Homo sapiens: one gene and its partners. The protein of the gene in region 1 interacts with the protein of each later gene in a pairwise test. Each region holds a gene or a part of one and is shown on either strand. Other genes may lie near its edges.

Region 1 (3,500 bases):
ACCAGTAAGTTTTCCAAAATAATTGTACCATTTACTCTTTCTGTAAAAAGCATAGATATTTTGAATTTCTTGCCTTTTTTTCTGTGTTCACCTTTTCTTCTTGGAAGTAGACAGCTGGCTAACCAGCAGGAGTTTGGGACCGATGACAGTGCAAAACATCTTGACTGACAATGGTGGTGGCTTATTAAAGTGAAGAATCAGCATCAAGAGGGGGAATCGGTGTATTCCTTCTATTTCTAGGCCATTGGGATATAGGTCGTTATGGGACCCCAGGTAGTAACCCAGCTCATTCTGAAATAGAGCTGAGAAATGACAAGGATTAAGTGTTGCTTTTCAGGTAGAGTGCTATTTTGGACCCTTGGCACAGATTTTGGTTCTTTATTATGATAAGTACCAAGAAGGAAAAGAACTGGGTCTATTAGAGAAAATTAATGAGGGGGATTAATTAGTTTGGGATCTAAGACTTATTTGAGGTGGTGACATTTAAGCAGGATGCCGAGGGGTATTAGCCAGATGGAGAATGGGAGAGGGAAGGAGTTGCTCTGTATCTCTTCAAGCTTGAAGAAATGGCATGTGCAAAGGTGTTGAACAGCTTGAGATATCACCAAACATCCTTATCCAGGTCCAGGAACTTTATCCCAGATACCATTTCTGTTATTTGTTGCTTTCTATAATATTTTAAATTAACTAAATCACACACATTCTCTTTTTCATCATTACTTGGTAAGTGGAATGTTTTGATTTTCCCTTCTGGTTATGATTTACATGTATTAACTTATTAATACACGAAGATCAAAAAGTGACCAAAATTGTTCAAAAGGTACAATTTATTATAGGATAATTATAATTATTTCATGCTGACAATATGTTTATAAGTGTTTTGCAGTAACCTTTTTGTTTCTATAATTTCATGGTAAGAAAGAAAATGAATTAGGTAGAGCTAGTAATACCAGGTATAGACAAGAATGTAGTATTTAAAGCTAATATCTGAAATTCTCTTCTTGCATCTGCTAACTGAACGAGAAAATTCTGTGTGTGAGAATGGAAAACTTTGGGTGAAAAGTGAAAACTTGGATTTTGTAGTCCAGGCCCTTAATTAAGTAGATAACACACTCAGAAGGAGAAAATTTGGGGTGCTTTATATACAAAGGGACTATTTTTAGAGGTGTGTGTACAGGGATCTGGTGCTGCTTCATTTTTTAACCTGTTTATTGCGGTATGATTGACATACAGAAAGCTATAGACATTTAATGTATACAGTTTCTGTTTGGAGATAAGTAGATATTGTGAAACCATCCAACCATTATTACTACAAGAAATCAATGCCATCACCTTGAAAAGTTTCCTTCTACTCATCTTTTTTTCACGTTTTGTGATAAGAGCACTTAACATTAGATCTAACTTCTTAGCAAAATTTTAAGAATACAATATTGCTAATCACAGACACTGGGTTGTACCTGCAGATCTTATTTATTTTGCCTAACTGAAACTTTGTACCCTTTGAACAACAGCTTCCCATTTTGTTCTCCCCATGTTCCCTTACAACCACCATTCTATTCTCTGCTTGCATGTATTTGACTATTTTAGATTTCACATACATTGAGATAATACAGTATTTGTCTTTTTGTGTTTAGCTTATTTCACTTAGCATAATGTCCTTCAGGTTCATCCATGTTGTTGCAAATGGCAGGATTTCCTTCTTTTTTAAAGGCAAATTTGTTTATTCTCACATTTTTGTTGGGGTCCCTAAGGTTTTCTACATCTAAGATCATGTCATCTGCAAACAGATATTGTACCTCTTCTCTTTTTATTTGGATGTTTTTAATTTATTTTTCTTACCTAGTTATTCTGGCTAGGACTTAAAATACTACGCTGAATAGGAGAGGCTAAAGTAGGCAACCTTGCCTTGTTCCTCATCTTATGGGGAAAGCTTTCAGTTTTTTATCTTTAAGTATCTTAGCTGTGGGCTTCTCATAAATGGACTTTATTTTGTTTTTCCTTTACCTAATTTGCTATAAGGTTCTTCCATACCTAGTTTATTGGGAGTTTTTATCACAAAAGAGTATCGAATTTTGTCAAGTGCTTTTTCTGCATCTGTGCAGATGCCCATGTGAGTTTTATCCTTCATTCTATTAATGCAGTATATTACATTGGTTGGTTGTCATATGTTGAACCATCCTTGCATCACAATGAAAAATCCTACTTGGTCATGGTATATGATTCTTTTAATGTGCTGTTGTGTTTGGTTTGCTAACATTTCATTGAGGATTTTTACGTCTATATTCATCAAATGTATTAGACTGTAGTTTTCTTGTAGTGTATTTGTCTGGCTTTGGTATCAGGGTGATGCAGGCCTCAGAATGACTTTGGAAGTGTTCCCTCTTCTTTTTTTTTTTTTTTTAGATATGTTTAATAAGGTTTTGTATTAATTTTTCTTTAAATGTTTGCTAGAATGTATCTGGCTCTTGGCTTTTCTTTGTTGGGAATTTTTTGATTATTCCATCAATCTCCTTTTTTGTTATTTGTCTATTCAAGCATTCTATTTCTTCTTGATTCAGTCTTGGTAAGTTATATTTTTCTAGGAATTTACCCATTTTTTTTTAGATTGTCCAATTTGATGGCATATAATTGTTCATAATAGTCCCTTATGATACTTTTTATATCTGTGGGATCAATTGTGTCCTCTTTCATTTCTGATTTTGTTTGAGTCTTCTATTTTTAAAGTCTAGCCAAGGATTTGTTGATTTAGTTTGTCTTTTCAAAAGAGGAACTTTTAGTTTTGTCAATTTTTAAAATTGTTTTTCAATTTTCTATTTCATTTATTTCTAATCTAATCTTTATTATTTTCTTCCTTCTGCTAATTTTGGATTTAGTTTGTTCTTTTTCTAGTTCCTTGAGGTGTAAAGTTAGGTTGTTTTATTGAGACCTTTTTTTTTTTTTCTTTGAGACAGAGTCTTGCTCTGTCACCAGGCTGGAGTGCAGTGGCGTGATGATCTTGGCTTACTGCAACCTCCGCCTCCCGGGTTCAAGTGATTCTCCTGCCTCAGCCTCCCGAGTAGGTGGGAGTCCCAAGTAGGTGGGACTAGAGCCACGCACCACCATGCTCAGCTAATTTTTGTATTTTTTGTAGAGATGGGGTTTCACCATGTTAGCCAGGATGGTCTCAATCTCTTGACCTAGTGACCCGCCTGCCTCAGCCCCCAAAAGTGCTAGGATTATAGGCGTGAGCCACTGTGTCCTGCCTCTTTCTTCTTCTTAATGAATTTATTGCTATAAACACTTCTCTTATTCTGCTTTTACTGCATCCTATATGTTTGGGTATACTGTGTTTTTATTATTGTTTGTCTTGAGATATTTTATAATTTCTGTTTTGATTTATTCTTTGACCCAGTATTATTTAATAGTATGTTATTTAATTCCCCTGTATTTGTGAATTTTTCCATTTTCTTTCTATTATTGATTTCTAGTTTCATTCCCTCGTGATCAGACAAAATGTTTAG
Region 2 (3,705 bases), on another chromosome or scaffold:
GACTTGGAACCAACCCAAATGTCCAACAATGATAGACTGGATTAAGAAAATGTGGCACATATACACCATGGAATACTATGCAGCCATAAAAAATGATGAGTTCACGTCCTTTGTAGGGACATGGATGAAATTGGAAACCATCATTCTCAGTAAACTATCGCAAGAACAACAAACCAAACACCGCATATTCTCACTCATAGGTGGGAATTGAACAATGAGATCACATGGACACAGGAAGGGGAATATCACACTCTGGGGACTGTGGTGGGGAGGGGGGAGGGGGGAGGGATAGCATTGGGAGATATACCTAATGCTAGATGACGAGTTAGTGGGTGCAGCGCACCAGCATGGCACATGTATACATATGTAACTAACCTGTACAATGTGCACATGTACCCTAAAACTTAAAGTATAATTTAAAAAAACAAAAATTCCCAAAATTTTCTCTCCGACCCTCTAAACTATCCAAGTGAATCAATAAACCAGTTCATGAGAGGAAATTGCAGCTATTTTACATGCTTTTTTAAAATCAATGTTCAATTATAATCAGATTACAAAAGGAATCACATTGCCACATCTCCTTCTGGCTGCGCACTGTAAGCCAGGCGTCCTTGGTTCTCAGTAACCCCTGTTCTGCTGACAGGCACGGAGCTGGGCCTCTAGTACCATCTGATCAAGGGAGCTGTTGGGAGGCGCTCTCTCCTCTCTCCTGGAGGCCTGAGGGAGCTTCTGGAACTCCTGGAAGTTTGGGTCTTTCCCTTGGGAAATGTGCTGCACCCTCTGCTCCTTTTTCTTAATGGCCTCCTTGATGCCCTCAATGTGACACTTTTCCTCCTTCTCGGCTTTCAGTTTCAGGATGTGGTGGTTTTTCTCCCTCAGGTGGTTGAGCTCCCGGAGGTGCTGCACCTTGTCCCTAGTGGTCTTGTGCACGTGACTCCTGGCCTGTCGGATCTTCTCATCCGCCAGCTCCACCAGAATTCTTTTGCGCATCTTCCTCTGTTCCTCTGACTCCCCTGCGCGCCACCTGGCCTGCTGCAACTGCTCTTCCTCCTTCTGGGCCTTCTCCCTCAGCTCGCGTTGCCGCTCCTTCCTCAGGCCCTGGTGTATCTCCTGGGACCGCTGGAAACTTTGTTCCAGGGACAGCTGCCTAAGGAGCTCCTCAGCCTTGGCCTGGCAGTCCATGAGGACCTTCCGGGCCTGGTAATTGATGAGGGAGCTCAGGTTGGTGTCCTGGACCTTCTTCTGGCCCTCCACGGCATGTAGGTGCCTCTTGCGACAGGCTTCCACCAGCCTCCTCTGCAGCTGCAGGCTGTGCTGCTCCCGGAGGTTCCGTAGCATCTTCTCCTGCTCCCGCAGGCGCCGCACCTGGCACTGTTTTCGGTGCTCTGCCTGGGCGCGCGCCTTCTCCAGCTTCTCCTGGCGCGGGCTCTCCTGGTCCTCTGGTTGCTCCTTCCACCGGCTTTCCCCCGGGGGCACGTTCTTCCTCTGGCTGTCCCGCCGCAGGCCGCGCTGCTCAGGGCTCTGGAGGGTCTTGCGCTGCTCCTTCTCCTGCCACTGCTCCTGGCTCTGCCGCAGCAGCAGCCGGCGCTCCCGCTCCAGGGTCATCTGGACCTTCTGATCCGAGCGCTTCAGCTCCTCCCAGGCCTTAGCCGCCTGCTGCTGCAGCTCCCGTATCCTCTGGGCCTTCTTGAGACGGGTCAGCACCAGGGCCACAATCTGCTGGTCCTGGGAGGACACCACCACCTCTTCCAGCTTGCTCTTCAGGACCTGGGTGTGCGGGCTCCGCATCTCTTTGCTGGAGGCCAAGGGCTGGGAGTCCCGGCTGGCTAATGACTCAACCTGGTCGCTGCTGTCTCTCTTCTGGGCGCACACGCAGGCTGAGTGCCTCTTGAACTTTTGCGAGGGCACAGAAGACCGCTCCGAGGGAACTGAGGAAGGGGACCAGCGACCTAGATGTCTGCCGAGTGGCACTGCCCACTGGTCTCCACCCTGTGCCTTTTCTACCCTGAATGTGCCACTCAGGGGAGTGCCAGCTCCTCCGGGGCAAGGCGGGGGCGAGTCTCCCTGGGCCAGAGGGTAATGCGGGCAGGGCTGCGGCCGCTGGGGTGGCAGCTGGGTCTGCGGCTGCCAAGCCGGGCGGGGCTTGGTTCCTGTCTCTCCCCAGGCATCTTCCAGGCGCCTGCTGCGGGGCCGGTGCTTCCTGGAACGTTCCAGGGGCCTGCGGGCCACATCGCTCAGGCTTCGGCTGCCCCGCAGTGAATCTGAGCACCCGCGCCTGCGAGGCCGCGGGGTGAACGAACAGTGCGGGTGCAGCCAGCACGCCCCAGCTTCGCTCTCCGCACCCGGAGTCCCGGCCCGGGAGCACGCGGTGGAGTCGGCTCCGGACCTCTGCCCGCCCAGCCGCTGCGTGGACTCTCGTTCTCCGCCGGGCCGCGGGGGTTCCCAGAGATCCCGGTAGGGCGGCTGGGAGAAGTGGCTGAAGCCTGCCATCCCTCCCTCTGGGCACGCGCAGCGTCTGCCCAAGGGGCCTGAGACCTCCCGAGGACGCTGCAGACACCCGCCCTGCCCCCCGGTCCCGAGGTCCGGGTCGCCTGTGACGCTCGGGCCACTTCACAATGCGCCTGGCAGCTGGGTCCTCGCAGTCTTCAGACCTTGCCCGGCGCCGCCCACCCCAGCTTTGCTAGCACCCGGAGCACCTGGAATGGGAAGGACAGGAGGCTGGGGATGGGGGTGGTGGGGGTCGGGTGGGGGAGAGAGGGGTTGTATGTTGGAGGAGGGAATATGTAGGAAATCAGGGTGACATTTAAAGCTGAGGGTGCATAGTGTCCCCCACCAGTGTTTCAGGGAGAAATTTGAACTCGCATTTGCACACAAACAGCAGGATTTTAAGAGAGCCCAGGTGAAGGCGTCACCCTCAGAATGGAAGGGGTGGGGAGAAGGGCCGGGGTGCAGTCTCAGGGAGGAGGTACCCTTAGCTGCAGAATCACCGTCCTGCACGTGTGTACCTCTGCAATGTGGTCAAATAGAACGGCTGTGGACGCGACACCACCCATTTGCCTTTTAAGTTAGCAAGCCCAAAGTATGCTTTAATGTTTACTTTTTAAGATTTTTAGAAAAGGTAGAAGACGACTCTATTTCCTAATATGGTAATTACTGCTTTTGTCAAAATGTGAATGCTGCGTGCACATTTCTGCAATAGCATTAGTGAACACCATGTTGAAATCACATTTTTTTTTCCCTTTTCCTCCAATTTTGTGGGATTCTCGTTCCTTGTTGAGGCACCCTTGGCTAATGGGAAAAGCACTGGATCTGGTAGAGAAAAAGAATTTGAATCTCCTCTACCACTCTTCACTCATGGGCTCTTGGGCAAATTCCCTAAGTTTCCCTGACCTCCAGTTCCAGCAAGGTGGAATGGGAAGTGGGGCCTCATCATATGGGCATTGCAGGACTGTTGTGAGGGTCAGATGAAATTATGCATCCAGAGGTTGGCACCAGAATACATTCAATAAATATTATTTTGGTGCCATGCTAAGCGTCAGTTAAAAGTTTTAAGGGTTGGGCTGGGTGGTGGCTCATGCCTGTAATCCTAGCATGTTGGGAAGGCAAGGCAGGAGGATTCCTTGAGCCCAGGACTTAGACCAGTCTGGGCAACATAGAGAGATCCTGCTTCTATATAAAAATTTTAAAAATTAGCTGGACATGGTG
Region 3 (3,500 bases), on another chromosome or scaffold:
TCACTGCATCCTTGAACTCCTGGGCTCAAGTAATCCTCCCACCTCAGTCTCCCAGGTAGTTGGGACTACAGGCACGTGCCAACAAGCCCAGCTAATTTTGTATTTTTTCCTTTTTTTTTTTAACTGAAATTACATAACTGAGATAATTTTTGTCTTTTTGTAGAGACAGGATCTCACTGTGTTGCCCAGGCTGGTCTTGAACTCCTCAAGTGATTGCCTCAAGTGATCCTCCTGCCTCAGCCTCCCAAAGTGCTGAGATTAGAGGCATAACCCACTGCAACTGGCCTGAAGTGAATATTTCTTTTAAATTGTGTTGAGCATAGACCATAGGGAAGCAAGGGTGGAAGCAGAGAGACTGGTTAGGAAACTAAAGTAATAATCCAGGTGACAGAATCTGGATACATTTTGATAGTATAGCCAACAGACTTTGCTGACAGATTGTGTGAGAGTAAGAGTCAAAAATGGCTTCAAAGTTTCTAACCTGAGTAACTAGAATGGAGGAAGTGCCATTTACTATTATGGGAAAATCTGCAGATTTGTGAATGGGAGAGAGAGGAAAGGTTGGTATTTTAGCTTGGCCACGTTAAGTTTGAGATGCCTCTAAGAAATTCACATTGAGATGTGGAGGTGGAGGAGGCAGTTGAATAAATGAGTCCAGAAGTGAGGAGAAAGATCTGGCAATAGATATAATTTTGGATTTTATAGTAGTGTTTTGATAGGAGTTGTTGATATCACCAAAAGTGATATTCTATGGAGTTTGGGTGGATTTGGAGTTCTCTGCAAAGGTGACTGAAGGAGCAGCCAGTGAGCAGAGAAAAACCCACTGTTCAGTAGGTGTTCTAGAAGCAAAATGAAGAAAGTAATTAAGGAGGAAGGAAAAATAAGTTATGTTAAATGTTGCTGTAGGTCAAATGAGATGAGGATTCATAATTGACCAGTACATTTAGCAACATGGAGGTCATTGGGATCTTGATAAGAAACTTTTGGTGGAGTAAAGGGTACAAAAGCCAGATGGGTACTTTTATTTATTTATTTATTTTTATTTATTTATTTATTTTTGAGAAGGAGTTTTTGCTCTTGTTGCCCAGGCTGGAGTGCAGTGGCGCTATCTCGGCTTATTGCAAGCTCCGCCTCCCAGGTTCAAGTGATTCTCCTGCCTCAGCCTCCTGAGTAGCTGGGACTACAGACACCCGCCACCATGCCCGGCTAATTTTTGTATTTTTAGTAGAGACAGGGTTTCACCATGTTGGGCAGGATGGTCTCGATCTCCTGACCTCGTGATCCACCCGCCTCGGCCTCCCAAAGTGCTGGGATTACAGGCGTGAGCCACCGTGCCCAACAATGGGTACTTTTATTTAGTAGAGTATGGGAGACAGCGAGTATGGATGCAGCACTCTTTTACTGTGTTCTTTGTCCAGATTGTTCTAGCCTGTCTTTAACTCCTCTTCTTGCAGGTCTTTGCTCAAATAATCATTTTCTCAGAGGTGTCCCTGATCTAATTAAATACTCTTCTTGTAAATAGACCTATTGCACCGTAAACCTTGAGTTGCTCTTATGTTACCAATTAGTTTTGCAGTTGTGCCATGATTTGATTAAAGTGTGTTTATTTCAGTAGAGCTTAAGCACACAAGAGGAACTACTGTGCTTGTTTTTGTTGATCATCTTATCTCTACCTCTGAGTACAGTGCCTGGTACCTAGTACAAACTTAATAAATGTGTGACGCAAGAATAAAGGAATGAATGAATGGAAGAATGATATAATGCCACAGAACTTTCAAAGGTATGGCATATTTATCTATCATTTACAAAAACACAAAGTAATTAATGGATGGACGAGGGTACATTATAATAAAAACATTTTAGAAAGTTCGTCCTAAAAAAAACAAAGCCGGGCACAGTGGCTTATGCCTATAATCCTAGCACTTTGGGAGGCTGAGGTGGGCCGATCACTTGAGGTCAGGAGTTTGAGACCAGCTCGGCCAAGATGGTGAAACCCCGTCTCTACTGAAAATACAAAAATTAGCCAGGCGTGGTGGTGGGCGCCTGTAATTCCAGCTACTTGGGAGGCTGAGGCAGGAGAATCGCTTGAACCCAGGAGGCAGAGGTTGCAGTGAGCTGAGATCGTTCCATTGCACTCTAGCCTGAGTGACAGAGTGAGATTGTCTCAAAAAAAAAAAAAAAAAAAAGAAGAAAGAAAGAAAGTTTACAGAATCTGTAGCCTAGGAAATGTAATTACTGGTCACATAAAATTTTATTTAATGTGATACAGTTTCACATTGTTTAATTCAGAGTTCTTATATTCATAATGTCTGCTTTTTGGCTGGGCATGGTGGCTCACACCTGTAATCCCAGCACTTTGGGAGGCTGAGGCAGGTGGATCACCTGAGGTCAGAAGTTCGAGACCATCCTGGCCAACATGGTGAAAGTCCATCTCTACTAAAAGTACAAAAATTAGCCAGGCATCATGGCACACGCCTCTAGTCCCAACTACTCAGGAGGCTGAGGCAGGAGAATCGCCTGAGCCTGGGAGGCAGAGGTTGCAGTGAGCCAAGATCGCACCACTGCACTCCAGTCTGGGCGACAGAGTATGACTCTGTCTTAGGAAAAAAACAAAACAAAACAGTCTGCCTTTTTTGCTGCAACATATCAATAGATGTTATGGAATTTAGAAGAACTTCTTTAGATCAGTAAATTTTCACAGTTACATTTTAGAAGAGTAATTAATTAGGGAACAGATATTGAGAGGTTTTGCTAACTTTGGTCATGGACCATGGAATCATGCAGTATGTTGCCTTTTAGACTGGCTCCTTTACTTAGCAATGTGCATTTATAGTTATTTTATGTCTTTATATGTATGGCTTGGGAGCTCATTTGTTTTTATCACTGAAAAATAATCCATTGTATGGATATATCACAGTTTGCTTATTCACCTTTTGAAGGACATCTTAGTTGCTTCCAGTTTTTATCAATTATGAATAAAGTGTCCTAAAAATTTATGTGCAGGCTTTTTCTGGGCAAAAAATTTTTAACTCATCTAGGAATATGATTGCTGGATCTCAGGTAACCCTATGTTTAGCTTTGTAAGAAACTCACAGCTGTTTTTCTTTTTCTTTTTTCTTTTTTTTTTTTTTTGAGACGGAGTCTCACTCTTTCGCACAGGCTGGACTGCAGTGGCGCCATCTCGGCTCACTGCAAACTCCGCTGCCGGGTTCACGCCATTCTCCTGCCTCAGCCTCCTGAGTAGCTGGGATTACAGGCGCCCGCCACCGCGCCCGGCTAATGTTTTGTATTTTTAGTAGAGACGGGGTTTCACCGTGTTAGCCAAGATGGTCTCGATCTCCTGATCTCGTGATCCGCCCGCCTCGGCCTCCCAAAGTGCTGGGATTATAGGCGTGAGCCACCGCGCCCAGCCATACAGCTGTTTTTCAAAGCAGCAGTACCATTTTCTATTTCCCACCAATGAATGAGAGTTCCTGTTGCGCCCCACCTTTGCCAGGATT
Region 4 (2,740 bases), on another chromosome or scaffold:
CTCAAATAACTTGCTCAAATTCTTGTTAATTGGTAAGTAGTGAGGCAAAGACTCAAAATATTTGGTTGACTCTAAAATGAATGCCTTTGACCACCATAATATATAACTGTTTCTTATTATTCACGGATTCCATATTTGTGAATTTGCCTACTTGCTAAAATGTGTATCCACCAAATCAATACTTGTAGCACTTTTATGGTAATTCTCAGACATGCACGGAGAGGTGAAAATTTGAGTTGTGTGAAGTTGAGTCCCCAGCCAAGGAGCCTTCTTGTTTCAGCTCTCAGGCTAGAAAATAGTGTCCATTGCGCAGTCTATCTAGTGCCACTTTTTTTGTTTTGCCTTCTTGTGCATTTTGTTGGTGATTTTGCTGTTAAAAATGGCTTCTGTACCATTCCAAGTCAAGTGCTGTCTAGTATTCCCAATCACAAGAAGGCTATGCTGTGCCACATGGAGAAAACACATGTGTTAGAGAAGTTTTGTTTGGGCATGCGTGACAGTGCTGCTGACGTGAATTTGATGTTAATGAATCAACAATACGCACTAAATGAGGTTATGTATTGCTTGGTTGACAAAACTGTGACCACAGGCTCACAGGAACATAGCCCTCTATTTCCTGTAGGAGCAATGGTTCTATATTTGCTAATTCAGTATTGGAACTGACTTCATAGAACAGAACTCACTGGAATGACAAGGATAGGCCACATTTCCTTGTGAGGACCCCAAGAAGCAAAAGCGCCCACTGTGGCCAGGCCAGACAATCAGACGGGGCTTATTTGGGGATGTCCTGGCCCCTTTGTCAGCCAGCCCCAAGTGTGTCAGTCCCATCGTTAACGCTGGGCTTTCCCATTCTCTCCCGCAGAGGGGCACAGCCGAACCCTTCCCGAGGCTCCACAACTTGTACAGCACCCCTCGCTGCGCGCAGCAGGCCGCCCTGCCCCGGCTGAGCCGCAGGATGGCGAGCCAGCACTCCTATCCACTGAACCGCTTCTCCTCCGTGCCTTTAGACCCCATGGAGCGCCCCATGTCCCAGGCCGACCTGGAGCTGGACTACAACCCGCCGCGGGTGCAGCTCAGCGACGAGATGTTCGTGTTCCAGGACGGGCGCTGGGTAAATGAGAACTGCCGCCTGCAGTCTCCCTACTTCTCCCCATCCGCCTCCTTCCACCACAAGCTGCACCACAAGAGGCTGGCCAAGGAGTGCATGCTGCAGGAGGAGAACAAGTCTCTGCGGGAGGAGAACAAGGCCCTGCGCGAGGAGAACCGGATGCTCAGCAAGGAGAACAAGATCCTACAGGTCTTCTGGGAGGAGCACAAGGCCTCGCTGGGCCGAGAGGAGAGCCGGGCCCCCTCGCCACTGCTGCACAAAGACAGCGCGTCCCTGGAGGTGGTGAAGAAGGACCACGTCGCCCTGCAGGTGCCCCGTGGCAAGGAGGACAGCACCCTGCAGCTCCTCCGGGAGGAGAATCGCGCGCTGCAGCAGCTGCTGGAGCAGAAACAGGCCTACTGGGCGCAGGCAGAGGACACGGCCGCCCCTGCCGAGGAAAGCAAGCCCGCCCCCTCACCCCACGAGGAGCCCTGCAGCCCCGGGCTGCTGCAGGACCAGGGCTCCGGCCTCTCCTCCCGCTTCGAGGAGCCCAAAGGGCCTCCGGCCCGGCAGGAGGACTCCAAGGAGCTGCGCGCCCTGCGGAAGATGGTCAGCAACATGTCCGGGCCCTCCGGGGAGGAGGAGGCCAAGGTGGGCCCGGGCCTGCCCGACGGCTGCCAGCCCCTGCAGCTGCTGAGAGAGATGAGGCAGGCGCTGCAGGCCCTGCTCAAGGAGAACCGGCTCCTGCAGGAGGAGAACAGGACCCTGCAGGTGCTACGGGCAGAGCACAGGGGCTTCCAGGAGGAGAACAAGGCCCTGTGGGAGAACAACAAGCTGAAGCTGCAGCAGAAGCTGGTCATTGACACCGTGACCGAGGTCACCGCGCGCATGGAAATGCTCATCGAGGAGCTCTACGCCTTCATGCCGGCCAGGAGCCAGGACCCCAAGAAGCCTAGCAGGGTCTGAGGCCTCGGCCTTGCACCGGGACGCCGAGTTTGGGACACCGAACACTGGGCAAAAGAGAATCCCCTGCCTTCCTTTGTCGTCCTCGCCTTCCCCAGCCAGTTCGTACCTATTGAAAAGCAGCGTTAGCAGCCTTCCTAAACTCAGAGTTTTAATAAAGGTGTGAGGAGGCTGGGGCCAGTTGACACCAGCATGCTGCCTTTTTCTTTCTTTCTTTCTTTCTTTCTTTTAATAAAAGATAGACAATATTTTAGAGCAGTTTTGGGTTCACAGCTAAACTGAGCAGAAAGTACAGGGAGTTCCCATAGACTCCCGTCCCACAAATGCATAATCTCCCGCATTATCACCATCCCTCCAGAGAGGTACACTAGTGACAGTCTTTGAACCTACATTGACACATAATTATTCCAAAGTCCGTAAGTTTGTATTAGGGTTTGCTGCTGGTGTTGTACATTCTGTGGGTTTGATCAAATGCATAGTGACATGTAGCCACCATTGTAGTACCATATAGAGTATTATAGAGTATATGTAGTACCATATAGAGTATTTTCATTGCGCTAAAAATCCTCTGTGCTCTGCCTGTTCATCCCTCCCTCCCCCTCCAGCCTCTGGCCACCACTGATCTTTTTTACAGTCTTCATAGTTTTGCTTTTTTCAGAATGTCATATAGTTGGAATCGCCAAGTGTGGA

The links. The genes of interacting proteins can lie anywhere in the genome.
Region 2: the proteins of CEP44 (region 1) and CCDC185 interact in binary tests that used the Homo sapiens proteins (3 or more experiments, as listed by UniProt).
Region 3: the proteins of CEP44 (region 1) and CEP57L1 interact in binary tests that used the Homo sapiens proteins (3 or more experiments, as listed by UniProt).
Region 4: the proteins of CEP44 (region 1) and CBY2 interact in binary tests that used the Homo sapiens proteins (3 or more experiments, as listed by UniProt).

The regions. Positions count from the first base shown.
Region 1 is NC_000004.12:174,286,911-174,290,410, forward strand, and holds part of CEP44 (centrosomal protein of 44 kDa), read left to right. Parts: intron 1-3,500. UniProt on the Homo sapiens protein: Centriole-enriched microtubule-binding protein involved in centriole biogenesis. In collaboration with CEP295 and POC1B, is required for the centriole-to-centrosome conversion by ensuring the formation of bona fide centriole wall.
Region 2 is NC_000001.11:223,392,261-223,395,965, reverse strand, and holds CCDC185 (coiled-coil domain-containing protein 185), read right to left. Parts: upstream 2,552-3,705; 5' UTR 2,491-2,551; coding exon 619-2,490; 3' UTR 501-618; downstream 1-500.
Region 3 is NC_000006.12:109,098,507-109,102,006, forward strand, and holds part of CEP57L1 (centrosomal protein CEP57L1), read left to right. Parts: intron 1-1,685; exon of another isoform or gene 1,686-1,780; intron 1,781-3,500. UniProt on the Homo sapiens protein: Centrosomal protein which may be required for microtubule attachment to centrosomes.
Region 4 is NC_000013.11:45,712,320-45,715,059, forward strand, and holds the end of CBY2 (protein chibby homolog 2), read left to right. Parts: intron 1-862; coding exon 863-2,053; 3' UTR 2,054-2,240; downstream 2,241-2,740.